5 linked regions of the Homo sapiens genome follow. The protein of the gene in region 3 purifies or fractionates together with the protein of the main gene of each other region. This does not show direct contact. Each region holds a gene or a part of one and is shown on either strand. Other genes may lie near its edges. The genes, in order: PC, PRKD2, TPSB2, XRCC3 and ACOT9.

The links.
Region 1: the proteins of TPSB2 (region 3) and PC purify together in Homo sapiens (affinity purification with mass spectrometry; one large-scale study listed by BioGRID and IntAct). This does not show direct contact.
Region 2: the proteins of TPSB2 (region 3) and PRKD2 purify together in Homo sapiens (affinity purification with mass spectrometry; 2 studies listed by BioGRID and IntAct, with this or other methods). This does not show direct contact.
Region 4: the proteins of TPSB2 (region 3) and XRCC3 purify together in Homo sapiens (affinity purification with mass spectrometry; one large-scale study listed by BioGRID and IntAct). This does not show direct contact.
Region 5: the proteins of TPSB2 (region 3) and ACOT9 purify together in Homo sapiens (affinity purification with mass spectrometry; one large-scale study listed by BioGRID and IntAct). This does not show direct contact.

The regions. Positions count from the first base shown.
Region 1 is NC_000011.10:66,866,864-66,871,383, reverse strand, and holds part of PC (pyruvate carboxylase, mitochondrial precursor), read left to right. Parts: coding exon 1-69; intron 70-186; coding exon 187-332; intron 333-491; coding exon 492-609; intron 610-930; coding exon 931-1,082; intron 1,083-2,419; coding exon 2,420-2,538; intron 2,539-4,520. UniProt on the Homo sapiens protein: Pyruvate carboxylase catalyzes a 2-step reaction, involving the ATP-dependent carboxylation of the covalently attached biotin in the first step and the transfer of the carboxyl group to pyruvate in the second.
Region 2 is NC_000019.10:46,673,816-46,678,951, reverse strand, and holds the end of PRKD2 (serine/threonine-protein kinase D2), read left to right. Parts: intron 1-288; coding exon 289-556; intron 557-1,495; exon of another isoform or gene 1,496-1,812; intron 1,813-3,833; coding exon 3,834-3,919; intron 3,920-4,216; coding exon 4,217-4,429; 3' UTR 4,430-4,636; downstream 4,637-5,136.
Region 3 is NC_000016.10:1,226,649-1,232,630, forward strand, and holds TPSB2 (tryptase beta-2 preproprotein), read right to left. Parts: upstream 3,537-5,982; 5' UTR 3,514-3,536; intron 3,304-3,513; coding exon 3,243-3,303; intron 3,090-3,242; coding exon 2,918-3,089; intron 2,809-2,917; coding exon 2,543-2,808; intron 2,416-2,542; coding exon 2,252-2,415; intron 2,167-2,251; coding exon 2,002-2,166; 3' UTR 1,688-2,001; downstream 1-1,687. Other genes in the region: uncharacterized protein LOC124903621, read left to right, coding at 1-592. UniProt on the Homo sapiens protein: Tryptase is the major neutral protease present in mast cells and is secreted upon the coupled activation-degranulation response of this cell type. May play a role in innate immunity.
Region 4 is NC_000014.9:103,704,110-103,710,095, forward strand, and holds part of XRCC3 (DNA repair protein XRCC3), read right to left. Parts: intron 4,551-5,986; coding exon 4,413-4,550; intron 3,107-4,412; coding exon 2,894-3,106; intron 1-2,893. UniProt on the Homo sapiens protein: Involved in the homologous recombination repair (HRR) pathway of double-stranded DNA, thought to repair chromosomal fragmentation, translocations and deletions. Part of the RAD51 paralog protein complex CX3 which acts in the BRCA1-BRCA2-dependent HR pathway.
Region 5 is NC_000023.11:23,737,991-23,744,715, forward strand, and holds the start of ACOT9 (acyl-coenzyme A thioesterase 9, mitochondrial isoform a precursor), read right to left. Parts: upstream 5,287-6,725; 5' UTR 5,155-5,286; coding exon 5,135-5,154; intron 1-5,134. UniProt on the Homo sapiens protein: Mitochondrial acyl-CoA thioesterase. Catalyzes the hydrolysis of acyl-CoAs into free fatty acids and coenzyme A (CoA), regulating their respective intracellular levels. Regulates both mitochondrial lipid and amino acid metabolism.

The sequences.
Region 1 (4,520 bases), on a different chromosome or scaffold from region 3:
GGCCAAGCCCAGAAGTGGTCCGCAAGATGGGAGACAAGGTGGAGGCCCGGGCCATCGCCATTGCTGCGGGTGAATATAACGGGCAAGCAAGGGGTGGCCCCGCAGCTCCTGGAGAGGGTCCAGCAGGGAGGGGTGGCAGGGATTCCCGCCTGTTACAGAGACTCCCCCACACCTTTCTCCCAACAGGTGTTCCCGTTGTCCCTGGCACAGATGCCCCCATCACGTCCCTGCATGAGGCCCACGAGTTCTCCAACACCTACGGCTTCCCCATCATCTTCAAGGCGGCCTATGGGGGTGGAGGGCGTGGCATGAGGGTGGTGCACAGCTACGAGGTGAGTGAAGATGCCCAGGGCTGGGAGCAGGGCAGGGCAGCCTGCCGTGGGGGCAGGGGCGGACCACTCAAGGGATCTGGAAAGTGGGTGGGGTTCATGGCAGGGGAGAGGTAGCGCTGTGGGGTCTGAGGTCTGGCTGGCCCCTGCCCGCCCTCGCAGGAGCTGGAGGAGAATTACACCCGGGCCTACTCAGAGGCTCTGGCCGCCTTTGGGAATGGGGCGCTGTTTGTGGAGAAGTTCATCGAGAAGCCACGGCACATCGAGGTGCAGATCTTGGGTGAGTGGTCCTGACGCCCCGCCTGGGGCAGCTGGAGGCGGGAGCTGAGAGGCCCAGTCCTGGTGCCGTCACAGTGGCTGGCCTTGGGGACAGCCCTGGGGCCTGTCGGGCGCTTTTCCAGAGGACTCTGGAAAGTGGGCTCTAGGGGCCGAGCTGGCAGTTGGTCCTCACAGCCTTGGTGATGCTGGTGTCTCTCCTGGCAGCCTCTGTACCGCTGGCAGCCGGCACTGACTGGCGACAGTGGTTATGTGGGGGTGATGGGGCATTTAGGAGGCGTGTAGATTCCAGTAAAAGCTAAGCCCAGTTTACCTCCCTCCCCAGGGGACCAGTATGGGAACATCCTGCACCTGTACGAGCGAGACTGCTCCATCCAGCGGCGGCACCAGAAGGTGGTCGAGATTGCCCCCGCCGCCCACCTGGACCCGCAGCTTCGGACTCGGCTCACCAGCGACTCTGTGAAACTCGCTAAACAGGTGAAGGGTGGGCTTCCCGTGTTGGGACAGGAGCCTGTGCTCACAGGCCGGCAGGCCTCACAGTGGGGCGCTGGTTGGGGAAGGGGACCCTGAGTCCCCTTCTGGGGACTGGGGATGGGGAGAAGAGGGTGAAGGACTCTCCTGGGGGCCAGAAGTGGGTTTGTGGCATCCTTCCCATGTGCAGTTGAGGCACCTGGCCCAGAGGCCAAGCTTAGAGTCCAGGATGGCTGAGAAGAGGGAGGGAAGGAGCCCCAGCCGCCTCCTCAGCCCTGCTGCTACACAGACCTGGCTTCTCTGTGGCATCAGCTCATCCCTGTCATCAGGAGAATGAGATTCCGTGGATTCTGTCAAGATTGAGGACCATTATGAAGGCAGTCCTCCCTCATGTGCTTCTGTCTCCTACATCATGTTTATTATGATCTGTTTCCTTGCTCTGCACCCTCTGCCCATCTCTGCTTTTCTGGGACCTCTGGTCGGGGGGTCCTGGGCTGTGGAGGAGGCTGAGGTGGCAAGCTATCTCCCCACAGTGACCTGCCCCAGGACTGGCCTGGAGAGCACCTGCTGTGGCCAGGTGTGCAGCGGGGTCCTGCCCCCTCTTCTTCCCTGGCCTATAGGCAGCAGAGGATGCGTCACCTCCCCATGCCGAAGGCCGGGGTGTGCACTCTGCAGCAAGGCCTCAGCCACAGCTAATGCGAGGCATCGACCAGGGTCGCGTTTAAGTCAGGTCTTATTTACTGGCTTATACTATTTCACATTCCAGAACAGGTTTAAGGGAGGTGATTCAGTCTGGTTTATCGTTTTGGTGAGACCAAAAGTGAAACTGGAATTAGGGCTGAAATTTGAGTTAGAGTCATTATCTGTTGGTACCTCTCAAATGAATTTCTTTGGGTGGTGGTGGCCAGAGGTGACTGCGCAGTAGACTAGAAGGGGACTTTCTGAAAACACCTCCAAGCAGAAGCAGCGGCTGGGAGAGGCCTGGGTCTCCGTGTCTGGGTGGATGACACAGCCTTGGCGGGCAAGCCCAGGAGGCAGCAGGGCAAGGTGCCGAGCCTGGGATGGGTGGGGGCTTCTGCCCATGTCTCGTCCCAGATAAGCTGGGTGCAGCCATCTGTGGCTCCGGGAACCCTGGAGCCTAGTGGACTACTTGGGGGACGTGTCCAGGCAGGAGCATGACCTGGGCCCTGGGGTCTGTCTGCCATCTGTGGGGGCAGGGTTTGCCACAGGCCATTCTTTTACGGAACCAACCCAATGGGTGGGACGGAATCCCTGTCCTGAGTCCAGTGAGTTTGCCCAGGCCCTGCCTGTGCCCTCCCCTGCTCACGTGGCCGCCCCCACAGGTGGGCTACGAGAACGCAGGCACCGTGGAGTTCCTGGTGGACAGGCACGGCAAGCACTACTTCATCGAGGTCAACTCCCGCCTGCAGGTGGAGCACACGGTCACAGAGGAGATCACCGAGTGAGTGTGGGCGGGCAGGCGGGGCGGGAGGCGCGGCTTCTAGGATTTGCATAAAGTACAGGCGAAGTGGCTCCTGGGGCCAGCCAGGGGGCTTGCTCACTCCCCACATTGGTGGAGAGCAATGGGGATCCAGGTACTTAGTGTTTTAAAAGTCATTATTCTAAAAGCATTACGTGGTTATTATAAAAATCAGCACAAAGGAGCAAATAAAAATGACTGACAGCCCTCCTCTCTGTCAGGACGCTGCCGATTGCTCAGGCCCAGGTGCTCCCATCTGTCAGAGGAGTAAAGCAAGGCTCAGAGACATTTGGAGAGTTGCTCGGGGTCACACAGCTGGCGCTGGAACCCAGGCATCTCCGGCTGTCTTTGGTTTGCTCCTTTCCCGGTTTACCTGTTTTACTAGAGACATAGTTTGATGCAATAGAGATGTTTTATATAGAATTTTTATTCTACTTTTCAAATTATTTAATATTTGTTGAAGGCATTTCCCCAGGCCATAATTCTGTCTGAATACTTTTAGTGGCTGCGTACTATTCCGTCTTGTGTGTATTTCTTAACTTACATAGTCCTCGATTGTTAGGCAATTAGTTTGTGTGTCTGGCTTTGGTGGTTATTAAGCGTGTCACTTATCATCTGTGTGCCTGAATGTTTGGCTTCAGCTCTGAAGAGTTCTGAGGGTAAACCCTTCAACAGGATTATCTGATTGAAGGATAAGTAGCATCCCTCGGAACAGCCCTCTAGAGAGGTGGCACTAGCGTGCTCCCTGCAGGCACTGAGGATGACATTTTCAAAATCCGCCTGGTTTCTAAATGACAGTCATGATGGCCCTCACCCTTCAAGGTCTCTACTATGAGCCATGTAATTTCTTGACGCTGCTTTGGGCCAGCCCATCTCACTGTGGAGCATCCCTGACCCCAGTTCTGCCCCCAGCCCCAACCCCACCTGAGACTGAGGATGCTGTCGGGGTGGCTGCTGTGGCTCGCCGGGGGCATGGAGGCCCCTCCCTCCCCTTAGGAGAAGCTTAGAGACAAGGCCAACACTTTGGCCGAGTGAGACTCTTCCCCTCAAGCTGCTGTGAACTCCTCGGTCTTGGGTCTGCTTAGAGCGTCCTGTTAGGGATGGGAGTCTGTCTGCTGTGGAGCACGGGTTTTGTGTCAGACAGATTGGGGCTCAGGTGCTCTCAGGTCCCAAGCCACGTGGAGCCTGGGTGAGCTCCAACCTCTCTGACCCTCGAGCTCCTCCTCTGGTGGGAATGACAGGGCTCTCAGCACACCGTCGTGGAGATGAAGCATGGGAGGAGTGCAGCCTGGCCTGTGGCACTGAGTGGAAGCTGTCATCTCTGCTGCGAAGTGGGCCAGCAGGCAGCAAGAACACGGGGAAATCCTGCCAGTGTAGGTTCCAGGCTGCCTTCACCACAAGCCTCAGTGGCAATACATGTAAAACCTTGAGTGGTTTTTTTTAAGACATAGTCTTGCTCTGTCACCCAGGCTGGAGTGCAGTGGTGCAATCTTTGCTCACTGCAACTTCTGCCTCCCGGGTTCAAGTGATTCTCCTGCCTCAGCCTCCTGAGTAGCTGGGATTACAGGCACACACTACCAGGCCTGGCTAATTTTTGTATTTTTAGTAGAGACAGGGTTTCACCATGTTGGCCAGGCTAGTCTCGAACTCCTGGCCTCGTGGGATTCACCCACTTTGGCCTCCCAAAGTGCTGGGATTACAGGCATGACCTGCTGTGCCCAGCCTGGTTTTTTTGTTTGTTTGTTTTGTTTTTTAAACAGCTGTTCCACTTGGACTTGTGACTGCCCTTAGGAGCAGTAAGGCTGAGCTTGGAAAACCCTGCAGAGGTGGGGAAGCTTGCACTCTCCAAGCATCTCTAGGGGGTTTTGGGCACAAGTCCAGCAGGAAAACAGGCCTCAGAAGGACAGGTCCTGACCCAGCACCCACTGTGCAACCCTCTCACAGCTGTGGTTACCATTTCGAGG
Region 2 (5,136 bases), on a different chromosome or scaffold from region 3:
ACTGAATGCCAAATATTGTCCTGTGGGCTTTGGATGGTTTAATTCACTAACCATCATGGCAGTCCTCTGAGATAGGTGCTCTTCTGCTCTTCTTCCTATAGATGGGGAAACTGAGGCACAGAGGGGGGAAGTCACCTGCCCAGGGTTGCTCAGCTAGTGAGCCAAGGAGCCTGGATTCAAACCAGCATCCAGCTTTCTCTGGAATACCATGGAGGGTGGTGTGGTGGGGATGCTGGGGTGGGTGCGGCTCCATCACCTGGTGGAGCCTCCATCCCTTGCCCTCTGCAGGTGAAGCTGTGTGACTTTGGCTTTGCTCGCATCATCGGCGAGAAGTCGTTCCGCCGCTCAGTGGTGGGCACGCCGGCCTACCTGGCACCCGAGGTGCTGCTCAACCAGGGCTACAACCGCTCGCTGGACATGTGGTCAGTGGGCGTGATCATGTACGTCAGCCTCAGCGGCACCTTCCCTTTCAACGAGGATGAGGACATCAATGACCAGATCCAGAACGCCGCCTTCATGTACCCGGCCAGCCCCTGGAGCCACATCTCAGCTGGAGGTGCCTGGGGCCCGCCTACCCCATGGGCGGGTGGGTTGTGGGGTGGGGCTGGAGAAGTGGGCGGAGCCATGAGAGGGGGGTGGACCCGGAAACAGCCTGGCACCTTGGGGGTGGAGCCCAGTGCTGGGGCGGGCCTACTGGAGGGATGTGGCTACAGGAGGAGCCGTCCTGTAAAAGATGGGCTGGGACTCAGGCCTAGACTAGGTTACTTGGGCTGGAAACCAAGTGCCCCAGAAGCGCTGAGGACACTTGGAACCTTAGGGGGGCTGAGTGAGACTTGGCTTGTCTAGGGTGGGACCAGGAAAGGGACTGGACTTGAGGGTACCAAAGGGCTGCGGTGACCAGGAGAAGGGGCTGAGCCTCCCAAGGCATTGGCTGGGACCTGGAGCCTTTGGGTTTACGACCCCAAAAGGGTCAGCCTTGCAAAAAGGAGGCACCGGTGGGTAGGGTTGAGAAACAAGGGCATGGCTACTTTGCTGTGTACTGGGGCCGTGACTTGGGTGAAGATGGGCCTGAAGCCTGGGGTCGGTTCAGTGACCAAGGGAGCCAGTCTAGGGACGTGGCCGTGGAGGGTTTCCGAAGAGGTCCAGGAACAGGGCTGACCCTGAGTCCTGGAAGCTGGGAGTGGATGGGAGTGGGGAGGAGAAGGGAGCCAGGACTGAGGCAGACATTGCACTCTGCATTCTGGGGCTTTGGTGTTGTGGCTGGGCCTGATGAAGTGGCACCGGGCCTGGTGACTTGAACCTACTTGGGAATGGGTCTGTAACTTTCCCTGCTTGGAAAAGTTAAGTCCTAAGGCCTGGAGCTTTGAGGCTGGGTGTGGGATGGCATGTTTAGAGGGCCAGAGGCAGGGCTAAGATACTGGGGTGTGTCAGAAGCCAGGAGAACAAGGGACCTGTGTTGGAGCCAGGGAGCTCAGGAAGACAGATGGAGTATGGGAAGGGGGGGGATCATTCATTCATTTATTTATAACCATTTATTCAACAAGTACATTCATGTATTTGTAACCATTGATTCAACATGTTGAGTGCCCACGATGTGCCAGGCATTGACTGTTCCAGCTCTGGGAATACTGTGATGACTTGGACAGAAGGGGTCAGGTGCAGGGTAGCTCATTGAGTGGTCCGCGAAGGGTGGAAAGGGGAAGGGTCCTCTCTGGAGGGTGCGGCTTCATGGAGCAGGTGGAGCAGGGTGACACGGAGGTTGCTCGGTGCAGGACAAGACAAGGTCTTGGTGGTGGTCTAAGAGCATGGGCCCTAAGCAGTGAGAATGTGGATTGACTTGAGTCCTGGAGTAATATTGGGGGTGCTCAACACTGGCTTTTTTTTTTTTTTTGAGGTGGGGTCTCGCTCTTTCACCCACGCTGGAGTGCAGTGGCGTGATCTCGGCTCACTGCAACCTCCACCTCTTGGGTTCAAGGGATTCTCCTGCCTCAGCCTCCCGAGTAACTGGGATTACAGGCACACAGCACCATGCCTGGCTCATGTTTTATATTTTTAGTAGAGACAGGGTTTCGCCATGTTAGCCAGGCTGGTCTTGAACTCCTGACCTCAAGTTATTTGCCCGCTTCAGCCTCCCAAAGTGCTGGGATTGCAGGCATAAGCCATCACACCCCGCCAGCATTGTCTTTTGAGACCCACTCAGAAGTCCCTCAGTAAAAGTGCATCGAGTGTGCACAAGTGAATTTAAGTGTGGTTGCACCTGTGTGAGGATCACAGAATCCTGTGGGTGTTGACGGGAGCAGGGTGCCTGTGTGCACCAGGCCTCTCCTCGGATGGGTTCATACAGTGAAGCCTTGTCCTTCATGGCTTCCCATCAAGGAGAGAGCCTCGGATGAGTGCTGGCTTGTCTTGAAGCTTGACATTCGCTAGTCCTCTTTTTCACAATGAACAGGCCTATCTCTGAGCCTTCTGCAGGCAATGGTGACTAACTACCATCTGATGACATTTTGTTTTGTTTTGTTTTGTTTTGAGACGGAGTTTCGCTTTTGTCACCCGGGCTGGAGTGCAGTGGCACGATCTTGGCTCACTGCAACCTCTGCCTCCTGAGTTCAAGCGATTCTGCCTCAGCCTCCTGAGTAGCTGGGACTACAGGCATGCGCTACCATGCCCAGCTAATTTTTTGTATTTTTAGTAGAGACGGGGTTTCCGTGTTGGCCAGGCTTGTCTCGAACTCCTGACCTCGGGTGATCCACCCGCCTCGGCCTCCCAAAGTGTTGGGATTACAGGCATGAGCCACCGCGCCCAGCCTGATGACATAGATGCTCCCTGATTTGCACTGGGGTTAGATAAACCTGATAAACCCATTGCCCATTGTAAATTGAAAATATCATAAGTTGGTCAGGCGCAGTGGCTGAAGCCCATAATCCCAGCACCTTGGGAGGCCAAGGTAGGCAGATTGCTTGAGCCCAGGAGTTCAAGACCAGCCTGGGCAATGTATCTCTACAAAAAATACAAAAATTAGCCGGCCATAGTGACAGGTGCTTGTAGTCCCAGCTGGCTGCTCAGGAGGCTAAGGCAGGAGAATCAATTAAGCTGGGGAGGTGGAGGCTTCAGTGAGCATTGATCACGCCACTGCACTTCAGCTTGGGTAACAATGAGACCCTGTCTCAAAAAAAAAAAAGGAAGTATTGTAGGTTGAAAATCCATTTAGGCCGGGCGCAGTGGCTCATGCCTGTAATCCCAACAATTTGGGAGGCCAAGGCAGGCGGATTGCTTGAGGTCAGGAGTTAGAGACCAGCCTGGCCAATATGGTGAAACCCCATCTCTACTAAAAATACAAAAAGTTAGCAGGACATGGTGACACACACCTGTATTCCTAGCTACTTGGGAGGCTGAGGCAGGAGAATCACATGAACCCGGGAGGCGGAGGTTGCAGTGAGCCAAGATCGTGCCATTGCACTCCAGCCTGGGCGACAGAGCGAGACTCTGTCTCAATAAATAAATAAGTAAAAATAAAAAGAATAGTACAGGTGTAATTGTATGTACCTGTATATGACAAAAAGAAAAAAAAAGGTGACATAGGGGAATGGGGAAATTGAAGTAGAGAACAGGTGAAGAGAGGGAGCTGGTGTGAACATGCATGGGCAGGAGGAGACAAATTTGTAATGTAATGAGGAAATGGGTGGGTGAGTGATTGGCACAGGTGAGGCTTCTGAGCCACCTGAGCTGGTGCAGAAGGAAGGTGTTGATGGCAGGCAGGTAGGCTAGGGGGTGCCTATTGGAGGAGGAGTGACCCTTGACCTGTAGGGCTTGACCTGTTTCTCTTTCCTGTGCAGCCATTGACCTCATCAACAACCTGCTGCAGGTGAAGATGCGCAAACGCTACAGCGTGGACAAATCTCTCAGCCACCCCTGGTTACAGGTGATGCAGGGGGCAGGGCTGGCCCATTGGCTGGATTGGAGGAAGGGGTGGGAGTAGATCGCTTATTGGCTAGGCAGGTTGTGAAGGATGTAGGTTTCCTTGGGTCTGGAATGTGGCTAGGCCTCCCATTGGCTGGGTGCAGGAAGAGGGGGTGGAGCTAAATGTCTACTGGCTGGGTGGGTTGCAGAGGGTATGGCTTCACCTTCATTGGTACCCAGCTCTCAGTGGCAAACCAGAGGATATCCAGGCACTGCTCCAATGCAGACCCCAAGCTAACCCCAGTTCTCTCGGGCCCAGGAGTACCAGACGTGGCTGGACCTCCGAGAGCTGGAGGGGAAGATGGGAGAGCGATACATCACGCATGAGAGTGACGACGCGCGCTGGGAGCAGTTTGCAGCAGAGCATCCGCTGCCTGGGTCTGGGCTGCCCACGGACAGGGATCTCGGTGGGGCCTGTCCACCACAGGACCACGACATGCAGGGGCTGGCGGAGCGCATCAGTGTTCTCTGAGGTCCTGTGCCCTCGTCCAGCTGCTGCCCTCCACAGCGGTTCTTCACAGGATCCCAGCAATGAACTGTTCTAGGGAAAGTGGCTTCCTGCCCAAACTGGATGGGACACGTGGGGAGTGGGGTGGGGGGAGCTATTTCCAAGGCCCCTCCCTGTTTCCCCAGCAATTAAAACGGACTCATCTCTGGCCCCATGGCCTTGATCTCAGCACACGGCACTCTCGAATCATTACTCTGTTGTACCAACATGGAGTTCATCTGGAAGGAGGACTGCCTGAAAAGAGGAAGGATGGAAGGGGTGGGGAGAGAGGACTGATGGGAGAGGAGTCTTGGAAGGAGGACGAGCTGGGGTAGAAAATATACAGGAAGAGTGCCAGGAGAGAAGATGAGAAGGGAGAGGGAGGAGTAATGGAGGAGGAGTTGGAAACTGGGGAGAGATGGAAGGAATGTGACTGGAGGGTAGAGAACTTGGAGAAAAAGTAATCTCATGGTTTGTGATGACTGATTTTTTATTTGGTGGTGGTGTTACTACTAATCACAACTATTAATTCAGGCTGGGTGTGGTGGCTCATGCCTATAATCCCAGCAATTTGGGAGGCCGAGGCAGGCAGATCCCTTAGATCTCAGGAGTTTGAGAGCAGCCTGGCCAACGTGGTGAAACTCCCTTTCTACAAAAAGTTCAAAAATTAGCCAAGTGTGGTGGCTTGCACC
Region 3 (5,982 bases):
CCTGGCCCTGGTGATTGCCCCCAGCTTGGTGGGGTCTCCTGTTGTCCAGGACCCTGGGAGACCTGGGATTGCTTCTGTCTGCGGTGGCCTGGCCACCTGGGTGCCGTCCCCTCGGTGGGAACCCTGTCCCCCCCACTCGCCCTCCGCCTCACACCCCCCTGTGACGGGGAACCAGGGCCTCCTGCCGGCAGCCACGTGGGTGACCTTGGAGCAGGTGCCCCCGTCCCAGTCAAAACGCAGGTGGCTGCAGCCCTGGCCAGCAGCCTGCCTGCCACGTCCTGAGAGACCCTTCCTGCTGAAGCTGACGCTCACATCTGCCAGTGTCACTGGGCTGAGCTTCACTGAGCTTCCCAGGGATCTTAGATCTAATTTGGGAAGCTCTGGGGCTGGAGCCCGCCCTCCCCCTCCACCCAGTGACCGGCCCCTGCTGTCCACCTTTCCTTACACCGGCAGCCCTGTCCTGAGGGGCCGTCTTGCTTCCCTTCGGGGTCTCATCCCTCCGACTCCCACCCCGCAAAACCTCCAGTGGGCGTGTGGAAGTGCTTCTAGGGGCTCAGTGTTCCCTGGGGGTCACCCCGTGCTGTCTCTGTGATCCCTAGAAGGTGGGATGGGCCAGAGGGAGGAAGAAGGGCCCGAGTTCCAGGTCCATCTTCATTAACAAGACGCTGGGCCTGCAGAACAGGAGCCGAGGGATGGGCCTTCAGGGGCTGCAGAGGCAGAGGTCACGTGGGGCTGGAGAGGGCACTGGGAGTTGAGTCCACCCCTTGTGAGGACAGAGGTCATTTGCAGAGATTCGGGAGACTAAATGCACATCTCTGCATCTAACAGTTGGAAGGAAAGAGTGAATGTTTCTTTAGAGAGTTGTTTTCAACCAGAACAGCCCCGCATTTCATTCCTGAGTGTAATCATGTTCAAATATAAAATGCAAACAAGAGCCCGGGATAAAATGCAACACTCGCCAGACGCAGAGGGCTCACCTATTGATGTAGAGAAAGACCTCAAAATGAATTTGAAAATGTCAAACTCAGGCCGGGTGCGGTGGCTCACGCCTGTCATCCCAGCACTTTGGGAGGCCGAGGCGGGCGGATCACTTGAGGTCAGGAGTTCGAGACCAGACTGGCCAACATGGCGAAACCCCATCTCTACTGAAAATACAAAAATTAACTGGGCGTGGTGGCTCACTCCTGTGGCCCAGCTATATGGGAGGCCAAGATGGGAGGATCGCTTGAGCCCAGGAGTTAAGGCTGCAGTGAGCCCTGATCACACCACTGCACTTCAGCCTGGATGACACAGCGAGATCCCGTCTCAAAGCAAACAACTAGGCAAAGCACAAGCAGTGGACGGAGGGGCCGGGAGAAGAGCTCGTGGGAAGCGTGGGGTAGGGGCTCGTGATGGGCAGCCCTGGGGCTCCCGGTGACCATTCTCTGTCTTGACCCGGTTGCAGGGACCTGGCTGTCCTTTATAATCAACTGAGTTGCCCGAGTGGCTCTGTGTGACCCGAATGCTGGATGCATCGTGTGGGGAGAAGCCAGCCTCGGGGACCAGGGCTGCCCAGGAGGCCCCGTCCCACGGTGACTGGCTGTGCCTTGAGGGCTAGGACCTCACACTGTGGCAGGTGTCCTCAGCACACCTGGACCCCTTCTCTCCCAGTGACATCCACAACCAGAAACACAGCGATGCACACCAGTGATTTCCATGCACTTTAATGAGGTCCAGCACTCAGGAGGATTAGCGCCCACCACCAGCTGCCTGGGCAGGGGAGGGCCGGAGGGCCCGGTGCAGGCGTCAGGCTTAGGACAGGGAAGGGGGCTCAGGATGGGGAAGGGTCCTCAGGACAGGGGAAGGGGCTCAGAAGAGAGCAGGGGGCTTAGGACAGGAAGGGGCACTCAGGACGGGGCAGGGAAGGTGTGGGGGGCAGTCGCCACCTGGGTAGGAAGCAGTGGTGTTTTGAACAGGAGGGGCTGGCTCTCCAGTGACCCAGGTGGACACCCCAGGCCTGACTCACGGCTTTTTGGGGACATAGTGGTGGATCCAGTCCAAGTAGTAGGTGACACGGGTGTAGATGCCAGGCCGGTTGGGCTGGGCACAGCCCTCGCCCCAGCTGACCACGCCCGCCTGCAGCCAGGTGCCATTCACCTTGCACACCAGGGGCCCTCCGGAGTCGCCCTGGGAAGGTCAGAGGTCAGCGCTCGCCGAACAGGCCTGGGAGTGGGGGTTGGGGGGCGGGGGGCGGGGGACAGGCGGGGCCCACCTGGCATGAGTCCCTCCGGGTGTTCCCGGCACACAGCATGTCGTCACGGACGATGCGGACGTCGTCTCCCGTGTAGGCGCCAAGGTGGTATTTTGCGTCACAAATGTGGTTTTCCATTATGGGGACCTTCACCTGCTTCAGAGGAAATGGCGGTGGGAGGCGCTCTGCAGGTGGGGAAGAGGGTGCAGCCTCAGGAGGGGGCCGGGCAACCCCCACCTGGAGCCCAGAGGGAGCCCAGGGGCTGGGCTGTGGCTAAGACCCTGGCCCCACCTCCACTGTCCCCAGACCCACCATCATTGTCCACATCGCCCCAGCCAGTGACCCAGCACGGCATCCCCGGGGGGAAGGTCTCTGAGGCAGGGGGCAGGGTGACCGTGTGGACGTGGCTGGAGACGTTCACCGGCTCCTCCAGCTCCAGCAGGGCGATGTCCGCTCCGATCTGGGCGGTGTAGAACTGTGGGTGCACGATGATCCTGCTGACCGGCAGCAGCTGGTCCTGGTAGTAGAGGTGCTGCTCCCGCAGTTGCACCCTGAGGGCGGCCAGATCCTTGACGTCCCTGGGCAGCGGAGGATCCCACTCAGGGCCCTGGGCAGCCCCCAGGAGCACCCGGGAGCCAGGGCTCACATCCAGCCCTTCCCCACCCTTCCAGGCCCCGGGAGACTCACGGTCCCACGCAGTGCGCTGCGGTCAGCACCCACTGGGGGTGGATGAGGGAGCCCCCGCAGAAGTGCATCCAGTATCGGTCGCGGACTCTCAGGCTCACCTGCCAGGGCCACTTGCTCCTGGGGGCCTCCTGACCCCCAACGATGCCCACTCGCTGCAGGGCCTGGCCTGGGGCTGGGGCAGGTGCCAGGTCAGGACCAGGAAGCAGCCCCAGGCCTGGGCCCAGCCCTTCCCTGTGTGGGGGCCAGCCCGACCTCCCCAGAACCCACCCAGGCCCTGACCTGTGGAATGTGGTGAGGGGCAGGGTGGACCCCGGCTGGGACTCACCAGGGGCCGCGTAGGCGCGGCTCGCCAGGACGGGCAGCGCCAGCAGCAGCAGATTCAGCATCTGGGGAGCAAGGAGGAGCATCGTGGGCCTGGCCGGGCCTCACAGGGCAGGGCTGGGGGCTACAGATTGTGGGGTGAAGAATGGAGCTGGGACGGGGGGACCGGGGTGGGTCCAGGCCTGCAGGCCTGGGTCTTGGTGCTCTGAGTCTGAGGCTGGGCCACTCTGCTCCAGGTGACGCTGATGTCAGGGTCTCTGAGAGTGGGGACTTACCCTGGCCGCTCCCTGTTCCTTCTACCCAGTGGGCTCTCCCCTCCCCATTTATGCTTCCAGATCAGGAGGGGGCGGAGGAGGGGCGCTGGGTCCTCCCATCCAGACTCGGAGGAAGTGGATGACTCAGACCCAGGGCCCCCGTGTAACACGTGCCCCCGCCACCCCGATGCCCTCTGTGTGTGGGGCTGCCAGGCAGGCCCCGCTGAGGGCTGAGCACTGGAGACTGGCAGCTCCACCTGTCAGCTGGTGGATCCCAGCACTAGAACCCACCACCTTCCCGCTGGTGGGATCTGCTCCTGCCCCTGTCTCGGTGCCAGGAGGCCTTCAGGCATTGCTGCACCCAGGTGGCCTGGCTGTCCCAGGCTACAAGACCCATCGCTCCTGAAACCTGTTTCCCCAAGAGGGACACGGGGTGAGGAACTCATGTCCATGGGCCACCCTCCAAGAGACGGGAAGGTGCCCACGGGGTGGGGACATGACGGGTGACACCCCTCTTACGGACTCCGAATCCACGGGGGTGGCGCCAGCCCTCCTCGACTCACTTGGTGGGAGGCTCACATGAGACCCCTTTGTCAGATGGGGAAACAGCCTTGAGAGGGGACAGCACCAAGTGTCCTCAGCCAGGAAGGGGCCCTGCTCCCCACCCGCCGTATGAGACCCAAGTCCTCCTACGAGTCCTCAATGTCCACCTCTGGGGCTGTCCGTGCAGGACCCCTGGTCTGCAGGTGCCTCCTTATCATGGGATCTGAGCTTCATCGGCAGAGGGAAGGGCAGACAGGAGTGCAGGTGCAACCCCAGGAGACCCAGCCCAGCTCCCCATGGACTCACCCCCAACCCCAGCCCAGCTCCCCATGGACTCACCCCCAGCCCCAGCCCAGCTCCCCATGGACTCACCCCCAGCCCCAGCCCAGCTGCCCATGGACTAGTCCCAGCCCCAGCCCCAGCTCCCCATGGACTCACCCCCAGCCCCAGCCCAGCTCCCCATGGACTCACCCCCAGCCCCAGCCCAGCTCCCCATGGACTAGTCGCAGCCCCCGGCCCCAGCTCCCCATGGTCTCACCCCCAGCTCCAGACCCAGCTCCCCATGGACTAGTCCCAGCCCCAGCCCAGCTCCCCATGGTCTCACCCCCAGCCCCAGCCCAGCTCCCCATGGACTAGTCCCATCCCCCGGCCCCAGCTCCCCATGGTCTCACCCCCAGCCCCAGCCCAGCTCCCCATGGTCTCACCCCCAGCCCCAGCCCAGCTCCCCATGGACTCACCCCCAGCCCCAGCCCAGCTCCCCATGGACTAGTCCCAGCCCCCGGCCCCAGCTCCCCATGGTCTCACCCCCAGCCCCAGCCCAGCTCCCCATGGTCTCACCCCCGGCCCCAGCTCCCTGTGGACTTGCCCCCGGCCCCAGCTCCCTGTGCTCTCCATCCCATTCAGCGCTGACACTGTCCCTGCAGGTCCGTCCACCCCACCTCCTGACTCCCCTGGGCCTGTTGGTCACTGGGGCCTCCAGCCCACCTCCTCCGCTTCTGAGCCCCAGGACCCCCTGCCTGCCCCCCGACCCCCAACACAGGGCCACTCCAGGGCTCCTCCTGCCCCCACCCTGCCTGGGACCAGCCTGGTTTGGGGCTGACTCTGCACTGCGGGGCCATATGCATCTGGACTCCTTCCGGGCTGCACCCCCCGGGGGACAGGCAGGGGTGGCCCAGACCGCTCCTGCTCATGACCCTGCTTCTCCTCCATTCTCTGGACAAACTCCCCAGAGGCCTCCACCTGCCCCGTCCTGGTTCCATGAATGAGGCCCACAAGATGGGACCTTCAGGAGCCCAGGAGGTGAGGGGATGGGGTGACGGGGGACACCAGGGATGAGGGTGTGGCAGGGACACGGGAGACACCAGGGCTGACGGTGAAGAAGAGACTCAGGGGACACCAGGGCTGGGAGAACCCAGGGACACACGGGGACACCGGGGCTGTGGTGTGCAGAGGGCTCTGGGACCCCCGAGTCAGGGGCTCTGGGGCCGCTCCTCCTAGGAATGCTCCGATTGGGTCAGGCCTGGGAGGCGGACCAATCAGCACCATGGGGATGCGAGAGCCTTGATTGGCTAACACTGGGCCAATCAGGGCGCGTCCTGGGCACCCCGCCCCGATCCCCGGCCGCTCCCCTGGGGCTGCTGCAGGGCTGGGGTCCCAGGCCATTGACAGACACTGGGCAAGAGGCCACGTGGGGCAGTGTCCCCGAGAGAAGGGTGGGGAGTCGGGTGAGACGACAGTGGCCGCGCCCAGACTCAGGGCAGCGATGGGAAACTCAGCCCCAGGAGCTTGCTGGGCTGGGGAGACGCACCTGGCGCGTGCAGAGGCCCCGGCAGCCATGACTCACGAGGCGGAGAACTGCACGGAGAGCTCCGGGCATCCGCAGGGGGTTCCCCCCGGCGTCCTCGGCCGAGTGCCGGAGATGCAGAGAGACGTGGGAGCCGCGTCGGA
Region 4 (5,986 bases), on a different chromosome or scaffold from region 3:
TCGAATCTTAAAAGGGAAGGCAGTTCTGACACCTGCTCCAGCACGGATGAACCTCGAAAACACAATGCCAATGCAGGAAGCCTGTCACGAGACCACGTGCTGTCCGGCTGCACTTGCATGGAGCTCCCAGGACAGGAAGAGTCACAGGTAGGGAAAGGGGAGGCAGGCTGCTGGGGGTGGGGGCTGACTGCTCATGGGTAGGGTTTCCTTTTGGGGTGAGGGAACTGTTCTGGAATTGGATAGTGGTGACGGGCACAGAACTTTGTGCTTCTATTAAAAGCCACTGAATTTATTTATTTTATTTTAATTTTTGAGAGACAAGAGACTCACTCTGTCGCCCAGGCTGGAGTGCAGTGGTGCGATCTCGGCTCACTGCAACCTCTGCCTCCCGGGTTCAAGTGATTCTCCTGCCTCAGCCTTCTGAGTAGCTGGGATTACAAGGCGTGCGCTACCACGCCCAGCTAATTTTTGTATTTTTAGTAGAGACTGGGTTTCACCATGTTGGTCAGGCTGCTCTCGAACTCCTGACTTCATGATCCGCCTGCCTCAGCCTCGGCCTCCCAAAGTGCTGGGATTACAGGCATGAGGTACTGCGCCTATCAGGCCGAACTGTACACTTTTAGAGGGAATTTTATGGCATGTAAATTACATCTCAATTTAAAAAACAGGAAGGCTTAGGGGGACTGATTTGAGTAATAATAAAACTCCAGTTTCCTGCAAAACAAAAACAAAAAGACAAGGCCGGCGAGCTCTCTAAGCACTGACTATGCCAGGAAGGCTGCCCAGCCAGGACCCCGTGGCCCACGGGGCGTCGTCCTGTTCCTGCAGTGGCACATGCAGTTGTGGGAGAGCCAGTGCCCCCACGCCGTGTCATGCAGCCTGTTTGTGAGTGTCCGCGTAACCTTTAATTCTGAGCTGATTTTGCTTTGACAGAATTTCAAACGTAAAGAAGAGTTGCAAAAATGGGTCAGGAACCCCCCGCCCCATTCTGTGTCAGAACTAAGCTTCTGAGAAGCATCTGGCCCGCTTGAGGCCAGGAACGTATAAATACTGCCTTGGGAGGCCACATCCCTTTTGTGGCTGGTTCCCTTCCCCACCAGTGTCCCCAGCAGTGACTGTGCCCCTAGTCAGGAGCCACAGGAAGGTCGGGGCCCTGGGCTTCCTCCGTCCTGTTGGCTGGAGAGAGGCTGGGCTGGAAGGCTCGGAAGCAGGTGGAACCGGTCAAGCAGCGTGTTTTTGTTGGGGTGACGTTATGTAGGGGCTGCACAGTCATGGGGACATCGTGAAGCTGGCAGGAGGGTGGCTGTGGACAGCCCAGCGGTGGGCGGGGCCCCAGCAGGCCTGGGAGAGCCTCACGCGGCTTAAGCACGGGAGTCGGAATCACTTCAGAGCCCGCCTGCCGCTTTCTTTTCAAAATTCGGGCCTTTAGATTGGATCCAGGAAAGGAAGTCATTTCCCCAGGAAAGCACATCTGACCCCTAACCTTGCATGTGGTCACGGTGGCCGTGGGGCCCCCTCCCTTCCCCTGGCCCGCAAGGCTGGACTGTGCTGTCATCCCGCAGCAGTCACTGGGCTGGGCACAGCTGGGGGATTCAGGGAGGGTGTCCTAAGGCTTCTGTGTCCCTGGGTATCGGGGAGTGTGGGCTTCACTGAAAAGGCCAACGGGGTGGAAGCTGAGGGGGAGTCATTGCACAAATCAGATTTGCACGAAGCCTGGCACGGAGGACGCTGGAGAATGAGGGCGGCTCCCGTCCCGTTCCTGAGCACGCTCGAGTCCCGCCTCCACCTCACAGCAGCTCTTCCGTGCGGTAAGCGGGAGACTCCCATTTTCAAGGCCAACTCCTGTCCTCCCGGCTTCTGGCTGTCTCCAGGCTCATCCCCAAGACCAGCCGCAGGGACTCAGGCACCTGACAAGAGGGTGCCCTCCCCTGGGCTGCAGGGACAAAAATGCCTGTGGCGTGAGCAGACCCCAGCTGGGCTCTCAGGAGACCCCTCACCCTCCACCCGACACGGAGGCTCAGGAGACCCCTCACCCTCCACCCAGCACTGAAGCTCAGGCAGGCACAGCACACCCTGGGTCCTGGGGATGACGCTGACCTGAGGGTGGCAGAGGTGAGGTTCCCAGCCACACCGCTGCTGGCAGGTCAGGCCCGTGAGGAGGTGGCTGGCTGGGCCTGTGGGTCCAGGGCCTGGGGTCCGGCCCTGTGTGGGAAGTGAGCCTAGCAGATGTGCTCGGAGGTGCCACCGATGAAAAAATACTGCCACTCTGTTCACGTGGAGTTTAAGACAACGTGGGAATCGCATGTTGACACCAGGGAATTAGTTTAAAAGTTAAGGAGCTACTGAGAAACATCTCTCCTCCTCACAGCTCACAGTTTAAAACTACGTGAACTTTTAACACCTGAGAGACCCAGGCAGGCATGCTCTGAACGCTTTAGTCCAATGCAGGGAACCCTCGTTTCACAGACAGAGCGTACAGGCTCACGGGGCCGCGCCAGGAGCATACCTGGCCTGGCGGCGGGGCACCCGGGGAAAGGCTGTGCTGCCCTCCCTGCGTTGCTGGCTCTGTGGACTCTGGGCTTGGCAGCTGTGCGGAACGTGGGCCGGCATCGCTGTGCTCAGCCAGCGACCCCTGGGGGCCTAGCTCTGCTGAGGGCCGGCTGCCTGGTGGTGGGGTTCGTACCCTCCCACCCCTCCTGCTGTCAGCTGAGCCCAGCCTCACTTCCCCCTCCCTGTTCTGGAAGGAGCGAGGGCAATCAGGGTGAGAAGGAGGGAGACGCAATGGTAGGAACAGCGCAAGAGGCGGCCACTGCCCCACCTCAACGGAAAGCTGTCCCACACAAAGCAGGGGCCGCCCACCTGCCCAGACCCCACGGAAGGGGTGGCCACTCACCAGCCTCCAGGCCTCCGTGCTGCCGCGGGAACTGCACAGCCAGGCAGAGCTGCAGCGCCAGCTGGGTCTTCCCTGCCGAGCTGCGTCCGGCCAGCTCAGTGATGCCGTCCAGGGGCAGGCCACCGCGGAGCAGCGCGTCCAGCACCGGGCAGCCCAGGCTCAGGCGCTGGTGCTGCGTGGGGAACCGCTCCTTCTGCTGGTGCAGCTGCAGTGCTAAAGGGCAGGGATAGTGTCAGGCCTGACTCTCCTGGGCCTGCGGGCAGGGCTGGGGACTGCGGGAGGCATGGTCAGCCTGCCTGTGCCAGGTGCAGTGTGGCTGGAGCACAGGTGCCTGCGGTCATGGGGGTGAGCAAGGTGCTGAGGGCAGGGAGGGGGGCCCAGCCGGGAAGGGCGGGTGCACCTGAGATGCAGAGTCAGGGGGAGCCCCAGGGCCACCATCACATGCCCGCAGGGATCCCCCTATGGGGCAATTGCAGCACCAGACGCCTTCAGCCAAAGCTTCCAGAGAGCCCCGAGGCGCTCCCTAACAGCCTCCATGTGAAGAAAAAGGCACAGCTCTGTCCAGCTGGGATGCCCTGGGGTGCTGAACAGTTCTCAAGCGGCTTTAATGGGCTCCCGCAGGCGCGCACACATGCACACCACATGCCGTCAGTTCTCTGTGACAGATACCATTCTGGAGCAATGCTGGTCTCAGCCTCTTGGCTAAAGGGCCTTGGATGAGCCATTTGACACAGCCTCCTCCACGACACCGAAGCCCCTCAGGGCAAGGCTCAAGGTGGGACATGCGGTGCAGGCTGCGCTCTTGGCCTGGGGCCTGGGCCGGGAGGAGCAGCCCCTCCCTTGGAGTCTGCACACTGCCTTGGGCACCCCGTCCAGGTGGAGCAGGCCACCCTGACTGTGAGGCCTGCCCAGAGCCCTGCCCACAGCACCGTGTGTGTGGCCGTGGCACCTGCCCACCACGGCAGCCCCAAGTTCAGCACGTTCCTCGGGGCCTGGGCCACTGAGCCACCTGCAGGGGAGAGAGGGCCCTGCTCATGCCAGGACCCCGCTGCCTACTAGGGCCTGCTGAGATGCAGGGATGGAAACCTTGTCCGTCCAGGCGCATGGGGTTCCCTGGGTACCTCCTTCCCCTGCTGAGACCTGGTTTCCCACACGTGGTGGTGGGACCGTGGCCAGGGCCCCATCTCACACCGTTCCCACCCTGCCAGAGCCTGAAGGGCTCTGGGTGCTGACTGCCAAATCCACCCCTGCTTCCTGCACCCCCTCCTCTGGTCCATGGAGCAAGGTCCCCAGGAGGTCCCACAGCCCGTGTCCACCTCACGCATCTTCTGACCCGATGCTGTGACCACAGCCCCATGGGTGTAGGACAAGCAAGATGGGAACTCTGGGGCTGGAGCAGCTGCCACACGCCCTGAGGCTGGTCCCTGGGTGAAGTCTGCACAGCCCCTGCCCTGCACCACTGGGACCATGATGCTGGAGCCACATGTCACCCCTGGCAGAGATGCCAGGGCCCACCTACCTGTAAGGATGCTGCTTCCCCGCAAGTGTAAGGAGGCCGTTCTCAGCAAGTGCCAGACCTCGGGGCTGGAGAGGTTGGTCAGTCTCTTCAAGTCTGGTCCAGAAAAGTGTAAAACCTCCTTTACCGATTTCAGTTTGGCTGAAATAACACAGATAAATTACAGGAAAATGTCAGACTGTCACAACGCAGGGCAACACAGTGACAAAAGGTGCTTTGTTAAGAGCACTGTGAGAGCACCGTGCTTCCGATTCTGGGGACAAGGTGGGTAGGGACCGGATCCCCTGCTCCCTGGAAACCCTGGACACAGTGTGGCCGATGCACAGGCACGAGGAAAGGGCTGCTGGACACTGCGCCCTGAGTCCTGGCACTCGGACAGATACCAGCCTCGTGAGCTGGGGCAGAAGCCAGAAGACAGGGCTGGGCAGGTCCCGGTGCTGAGAGCAGGTTCCGGTACTGAGAAGAAACGACAGGCACCCAGTTCCATGCCAGCTGGAGACAGTGCTCCAGAAGGGGGCAGGAAAAAACCAGCACCGAGCTTTCCACCACCCGCCCACCAGGCATGGATCTGGGCTGAGCCGCGGGAGAGGACATGTGCCCTGGGGAGGGGAGCGCTGGGAGGGTAGCAGAGCCCAGGTCCAAACGCCAGCTGCGCAGGGCAGTCAGGGCAGGGGGCAGAGCATGTGCGAATCAGAACGGCGGTGGCAGCAGTTACAGGGGTGCAGATCCCCAGGACCTGCCATCTGGGGAGGAGGGCAAGGAAGTTAATTTTGGACTCAGATAAGTGCATCACTTTCTAATTTCAAACTTGTAGAAAGACGACAAATGCTGCAGACTGATCAGCCGATCAGGGAAGTGCGAGGAAGCGCACACGAGAGGGAGCAGTGGTGGACGAAGCGCCCCACCCGGCCACGGGGACTTACACCCACCACATCAGAAACCCCCTCAACACGGGTGCGCTGAACGCTGCAGTGAAAAGACAACCATTGTGCGGCTGGAAAACAGTAAGCACTGGTGTGATCTTCAGAAAAGCCACACAGAAAACACAAGGAGATGGAAGGGTGGGAATGAAGAAAGCGCCCCTGGGTTTCACCAGATCCAGCGGAGGGGGCTTCCCGCAGACAGGCTGCTCCAGAAGGCTCTGTGGGCCCTGAGGACTCACCGGGATCGGGGCTGTGGCAGGGCGCTCCCCCTGGTAAGCCTCACAGCCCCAGCCCCCTTCACAGCCGTGAAGTCTGCAGGGACTTCTGGAAACATTGGTTTTTGGATAAGAGACACAGGTGAGAAAGGAACTCCCTGGCTGAGCCCTTCTCTGTCCCTGGTCTGCAAGCGTCGTGTCTGCAGCTGTGGCAGCAGCTGTGATCACAAGGCCACCAACAGGAGGATAAAAACCAACAGCCAAGGATGGAGGGTCAGGACAGCGAGGCCCTGCCCTGTCACCAGGCTGCTGCGGCAGCTCCATGAGCACTCCGGCTTCTCGCCACAGACAGCGTGCTGAGGTTCACGTAGCTGAGGCCCGGGGAGACGGGGGAGGATGGAAGCTGGCAGGAGGGTCCCCGGATGACAGCCAGGCGGCT
Region 5 (6,725 bases), on a different chromosome or scaffold from region 3:
CCCGAGTAGCTGGGACTACAGGCGCCGCCACCGCGCCCGGCTAATTTTTTGTATTTTTAGTAGAGACGGGGTTTCATCATGTTAGCCAGGATGGTCTCAAACTCCTGACCCTGTGATCTGCCCACCTTGGCCTCCCAAAGTGCTGGGATTACAGGCATGAGCCACCGCACCTGGCCGTCTTTTTGTTTTTGACCATCTAATCTGCATTTTCTCAGAACGTGATTTGAATTTTCCATTTTTTTCATTATTTTGTTTTATGTATCTTCTATAGGTTCATATGCCTTACTGAAGGAAACAGAGTAAGTATTCCTTCATTCTTCCATCTCAGAAACAAGCAGCCAGGCATGGTGGCTCATGCCTGTAATCCTAACACTTTGGGAGGCTGAGGTGGGTAGATCACCTGAGGTCAGGAGTCCGAGACCAGCCTGGCCAACATGGTGAAACCCTATCTCTATTAAAAACATAAAAATTAACCAGGCATGGTGGCGCACACCTGTAGTCCCAGCTACTCTGGAGGCTGAGGCAGAATCACTTGAACCCAGGAGGCAGAGGTTGCAGTGAGCTGAAATGGCCCCATTGCATTCCAGCCTGAGCAACAGAGCAAGACTCCATCTCAAAAAAGAAACTAGCATTCTACAACTGAATATATCTGGTTTTAAAGAACACACTGGAAAAAGCTAATCCTTTCTATTGCTACCATTAGCTGAAAGAGCAAAAAAATCATGACCCCCAACACATTAATAGGAACTATAATAGACACGTTAAATGTATCCAACATAAGAAATGGGATCTGATTCTGAATGGCTAAATACCCTGAATACGCATCACTAACAGGAGCTATATAACCAGTCTCACATACCTGAATAAATACACATATACACAGAAATTGTTTTGTTACACTAAGAAGCAGCATTTTCTGAAGAGGGATGAAAATCATTCCATCCTGTTTGTGTGAGAGGCAATACAGTATAGGGGTTAACCCAAAGGCTGGGCGCAGTGGCTCATGCCTGTAATGCCAACACTTTGGGAGGCCGAGGCAGGCGTATCACTTGAGGTTAGGAGTTTGAGACCAGCCTGGCCAATATGGTGAAACCCCGTCTCTACTAAAAATATGAAAATTAGCTGGGCATGCTGGCGGGCACCTGCAGTCCCAGCTACTCGGGAGTCTGAGGCAGGAGTATTGCTTCAACCCAGGAGGCGGAAGCTGCGGTGAGCCGAGATCGTGCCACTGCACAGCGAGACTCTGTCTCAAAAAAAAAAGAGCCCAATCATGCTGCTTGTTAGCTGAGTTACCTTAGACAAGTTACCTAACCTCCCTGATCCTCAGTTTCCTCATCTGTAAAATGGGGATAATAATACTACCTATCCCATAGGATTGTCAAAAGGATAAAGGAATTAACACATATTAAACCCTGAAGGGCACGTCTAGAAGAGCATGTCTAATATACTGACAAGTCCTCAAAAATCTCTAGCTATCATTATTCCAGAAAGTCATGCTTCTCCAAAGTCTCCCCTAAAGATCAAAAAGAACCAGGCTGGGCACAATGGCTCACGCCTGTAATCCCAGCACTTTGAGAGGCCAACGCGGGAGGATCACTTGAGACCAGTGTGGGCAACATAGGGAGATCCCGTTTCTACAAAAAAATTTTAAAATATTAGTCAGGCGTAGTGGTGCACACTTGTGGTCACAGCTACTCAGGAGGCTGAGGTGGGAGGATCACTTGAGCCCCGGGGAGGTCGAGGCTGCAGTGAGCCATGATCGCACCACTGCACTCCAGCCTGGGTAAAAGAGCAAGACTCTGTCTCCAAAAAAAAAGGAAAGATAGCCTAAGCCAGGCACTATCACGGACCACTGCCAAACATAGAATCAAATGAGGAGAGAAAAGAAGGGAGTTAATGAATACAGAGAAACACTTGGGCCAATTTATTTGGAAAATTGTAGTCCTAGAGCCCCATTGCTTTGCATGCTGCCTTAAAAAATTTGGAAATACATTCCTGTGGCACAACAAAGGCATAATTGGAACACTTTTTAAAAAAATGTTGCTTATACCAATAGCATATTGGTAATAATAAATCTATATCATACTGTCAACATAGCATTCAAGAGTATTCGGGTAATGGTAACTTTTTTTTTTTTTGAGACAGTCTCACTGTCACCCAGGCTGGAGTGCAGTGGCAACATCTTGGCTCACTGCAACCTCCACCTCCCGAGTTCAAGCGATTCTCCAGCCTCAGCCTCCCGAGCAGCTGGGATTACAGCTGTGCACCACCATGCCCAGCTAGTTTTTGTGTTTTTAGTACAGACAGGGCTTCACCATGTTGACCAGGCTGGTTTTGAACTCCTGACCTCAAGTGATCTGCCCGCCTCAGTATCCCAAAGTGCTGGGATTATAGGCGTGAGCCACCGCGCCTGGCATGTAATGGTAACTTTTCACTACATTTGGTATCCTATTTACTGATAATCTGATGGAAACTGTGGACCTCGAGCGGGCGTGGGAAGGGTTGGAATACATTTTTGCTCACACACACAATGGTATATACTATTTCAGGAGGTGCACAGACCCTTTTTGTACCCTCAGATCCCCCTATATTTGAAGATTCTGATTCAAACCAACCTCCTTAAGAAACTGAGGCCCCAGTTTCAGACGACTTTCCCCCAGTGCCAGTCAACAGGCACACCAGCAGAGTCCAGATAGAGCCCAGTTCTTCCGATCTCCCCCAATACATACACACACACACACACACACACACACACACACACACACACACACACCGCACTGAGGTGGAGGAGGTGGGAGAATGGTTTTAATCAATACTCAACACTTCAGTACCTCAGGGTTACTGGCTTATCTCCTGATAAGCCCTCAGGAGTCTTACTTATAGCAAAACCTCTAGGCCTTTACTGTGGAGAGGCCTTTGCAACACTCAAATCCCAGGACCTTGTAACTGAACCTTTCCAATCAAAGGAGATCAAGAAACTCAAGGCGGGGGGAGTGGGGAGGGACAGCATTAGGAGATATACCTAATGCTAAATGACGAGTTAATGGGTGCAGCACACCAGCATGGCACATGTATACATATGTAACTAACCTGCACATTGTGCACATGTACCCTAAACTTAAAGTATAATAATAATAATAATAAAAAGATGATTATTACAAAAAGACAAAAGATAACAAGTGTTGGTGAGGATGTAGAGAAAAGGGAACCCTCGTACACTATTGGTGAAAATGTAAACTGGTACAGCCATTTTGAAAAATAATGAGGCAGTTCCTCCAAAAATTAAAAATATAACTACCATATGATCCAGCAATTTCTCTTCTGGACATATATCCCAAAGAAATAAAAAAAGTATTTCAAAGAGAAAAAAAAAAAAGAAAACTCAAGGCCTCCATGGCCTACCTGGGGAGTCACATAACTCACCCTGGCTCAGCCCTGGGTCCCAAGCTTACAGCAGTTGGCAAGGAAGAGTGTTCAGTGCAATAACAGGCAATACCACTCATATGCCCTCCACTCTGAGGAAATAACCTCTATTTAGAGACTAAACAAAGGTGCCTCTTGCAAGTCTAAAAAAGAAAAGAAGCTACAAAGGTTGCCCACCAGTCAAAGAACCTAATCATCTCAGTCTATATTCATTTGTGAACTCCTCCTCTCACTAGACACTAAGAGATTATCCGCTTAAGGTTCAATAGTTTTTTGTTTGAGACAGAATCTCACTGTGTTGCCCAGGCTGGAGTGCAGGGGCGCGATCTCAGCTCACTGCAACCTCTGCCTTCCGGTTCAGGCGATTCTCCTGCCTCAGCCTCCAAAAGTAGCTGTGACTACAGACATGCACCACCACTCCCGGCTAATTTTTGTATTTTTAATAGAGACGGGGTTTCACCATGTTGGCCAGGCTGGTCTCGAACTCCTGGCCTCAAGTGATCCATCCACCTCAGCATCCCAAAACGCTGGGACTGCAGTCGTGCACCACCACACCCGGCCTCAATAGAATTTTCAAGAAAGGAACACAGGGTTATAAGAGAAAGCACCTGAACAAGACCATGGAGCTTTTGTAGAAGACCTTTCACATTGCAAGCTAAAGTCAACTGTGGCCCCTCTCATAATGACTTTCAGTCTGCCTTCAAATAGTTTAACAAAGGTTTTTTGTTTGTTTTTAAGTACTATAAACAAGACAGAACCCTTACAACTGATAACAAAGTCCCCAGGAACAGTGAGTGAGTGAGAGAGAGAGAGAGAGAGAGAGGGAGAGAGAGAGAGAGAGAGATATCCAGGACCCCCAAGAGAATTGATGGGGTTAATGTGAGTCAAAAGCACTATGAGTCACATCAGGGGGACAGGCCCACTGGCAGCGAGATAACTTCAGAAACTGGAGCAGGTGTGAGCCCCCTGGGATGCAGCCAGGCAGAAAACTTGGAAAGGGTGGCATGCTCGGGTGAAAGGGATTAGGGAGAGCTAGACACGCTCTGGAGTCTAAGGCCCTCAGGCCTTAACTGTGCCAGCTGGGAAGATTACATATACAAAAAGGCATCCTCCCTTACCCACGTGGCCCAATCAAAGCACCCAGCCTCTTATAAGGGCTTTGCGGCTCATTAAAGTTAAGTTCAAATTGGCACCAGGGTCCTAGACGCACAGTCCTAGGGTCCTGGGAGCCAAAAGGTACCCTGTAATCTCTGCCAATGTTACAACAAACTTAAGTAAGAGCCGAAGTAGGTCAAGCATTTAATCCTAAAAATGTTCTCCAAAGGAAGATGAAGGGCTAGAGGTAACATAGAACTCCAAATATTATCTTTCTGACAAGGGGCTACCCCGACGCGGCTACCAACCACACCCCGGATGAGCAAGGCCAAAGGAATTTTAGGGAACACCCAACTTCCTCCCTTAAAAGTGCTGCTTTGCTTTTAATATCAAACTCAGTGCTAGAAGTCGCCAAAGTGGGGGCGAGGTTCTCCCAACCAAAGGCCGGCGGGCTTATGTCCGGTCGGAGGTACAGTGGGCGAGCGCCCCTTATCATAGAGCCCAAATGCCCATGCGTGGCCCACTTCTTCCGCCGGGGCCAGCCCGAAGCTCTAGGGGAAGACGATGGCACCCCAGGCTACCGCCCTGCCAGCCCCTTCCACGCCCCGCCACCTACCGCAGTGCTGCCCGCCTCATTGCGCTAGGCTGCCGTGCGCGCGATGGAGAACCGGGCCCCGCGCGCTAGTCGGCGGAGGGAAACTGAGGCGATAAAAGACGCACGAGTACCAGACCGCGCCCTTGCTGAGGACAGCCCGGGAGCCGGACAGCGGTGTCCGGGGGCGGGACCGCGGCGTCCAGGGGGCGTGGCCGCGCTGTGCCGGGCGGACCCTACCCGTTCATTGGCGGGAGGCTGGAGTCCGCCTCTGCGGAGCTTCCCACTCAATCAGTTGTGCGGGTCGTGTTGCTACAGCGAGGACCGGCCTATTCTCGGTTGAGTAAACGAACCACGCAGCAACGCCAGGGCGTGACGTCGAGAAGAGGCCCGGCTCTGCCTAGTGGAGCTTGTCTCCTTTATCCTTGATCCCCGCGCCTTGGCTCCGTCTGTTCTTCCCCTTGGCTGCACATTGGAATCTCCTGGGCAACTTTCCAAAATACTGATACTTGGCCGGGCGCGGTGGCTCACGCCTGTAATTCCAGCACTTTGGAAGGCCTAGGCGGGCAGATCACCTGAGGTCAGGAGTTCAAGACCAGCCTGGCCAACATGGCGAAACCCTGTCTCTACTAAAAATTCAAAAATTAGCCAGGCGTGGTGGCAGACGCCTGTAATCCCAGCTACTCGGGGGACAGGCACGAGTATCGCTTGAACCTGGGAGGCGGAGGTTGCGGTGAGCCGAGATCGCACCACTACACTTCAGCTTGGGCGACAGAAGGAGACAATGTCTCAAAAAAAAAACAACAAAAAACTGATGCTTGAGACCCACTGGCTGGAGATTCTAGTTTAGTCCTGGGTGCGGTCTGGGCTTCGGGATGATGTCTAAAGATGCCCCCAGGTGATGCTAATGTAACCAAAGGCTAAAAACCACTGACCTAACAGGAAAAAATTGTTCCTCTCCTCTTCTCGGCCTGACCCCCAATGTTTGATATCTTGGGCGAGCTAGAGAGATTCAAGGCCAGAGAGTTTAAGATTATTTCACCCTACGATCTAATTCTCCATTTCTTTCAACGAATTATTATTGAGCTGTTTGCATTGTGCCAGGCACTATTGCAGAGGTTGGGGTTGCAAAAAGAAAAAAGGACAAAAATCCCCGCCCTTAAGGGGCTTGCCTCTTGATAAGGAAGGAAAACAAATCAACAAACAAGTTAGCAAATAACATGATCTCAAATATGGTAAAGCGGTTTAAAGGGGAAATAAGGTAACGAGTGGGGATCTTTTGAGAATATAAGCAAGTCTTGCTTTGCCTCTAAATACGGCAATTTCCTAAAAGGCAAGGGCCATATGCTTTTTCGCAATACCCCATACTTAGTAAAAATGTATTGATTTGAATTAAGCTAGCTTTCTGTTTTGAATCACTTCATGAGTTACACATGGAGCATGGTCTTCGGCTTTCTCTTTCTACTGAATTTTCCCTGCTTTTATCAATCTCACATCTGGAAGACTCCCCTTTTAGCCTACAAGGATCTCTCCTTCATTTTTGTTCACATTGTCTTTTCATTTTTGTCACATTGTTCACATTGTTCACAAGTCACTTTTCAGTGATTGTCTTGTT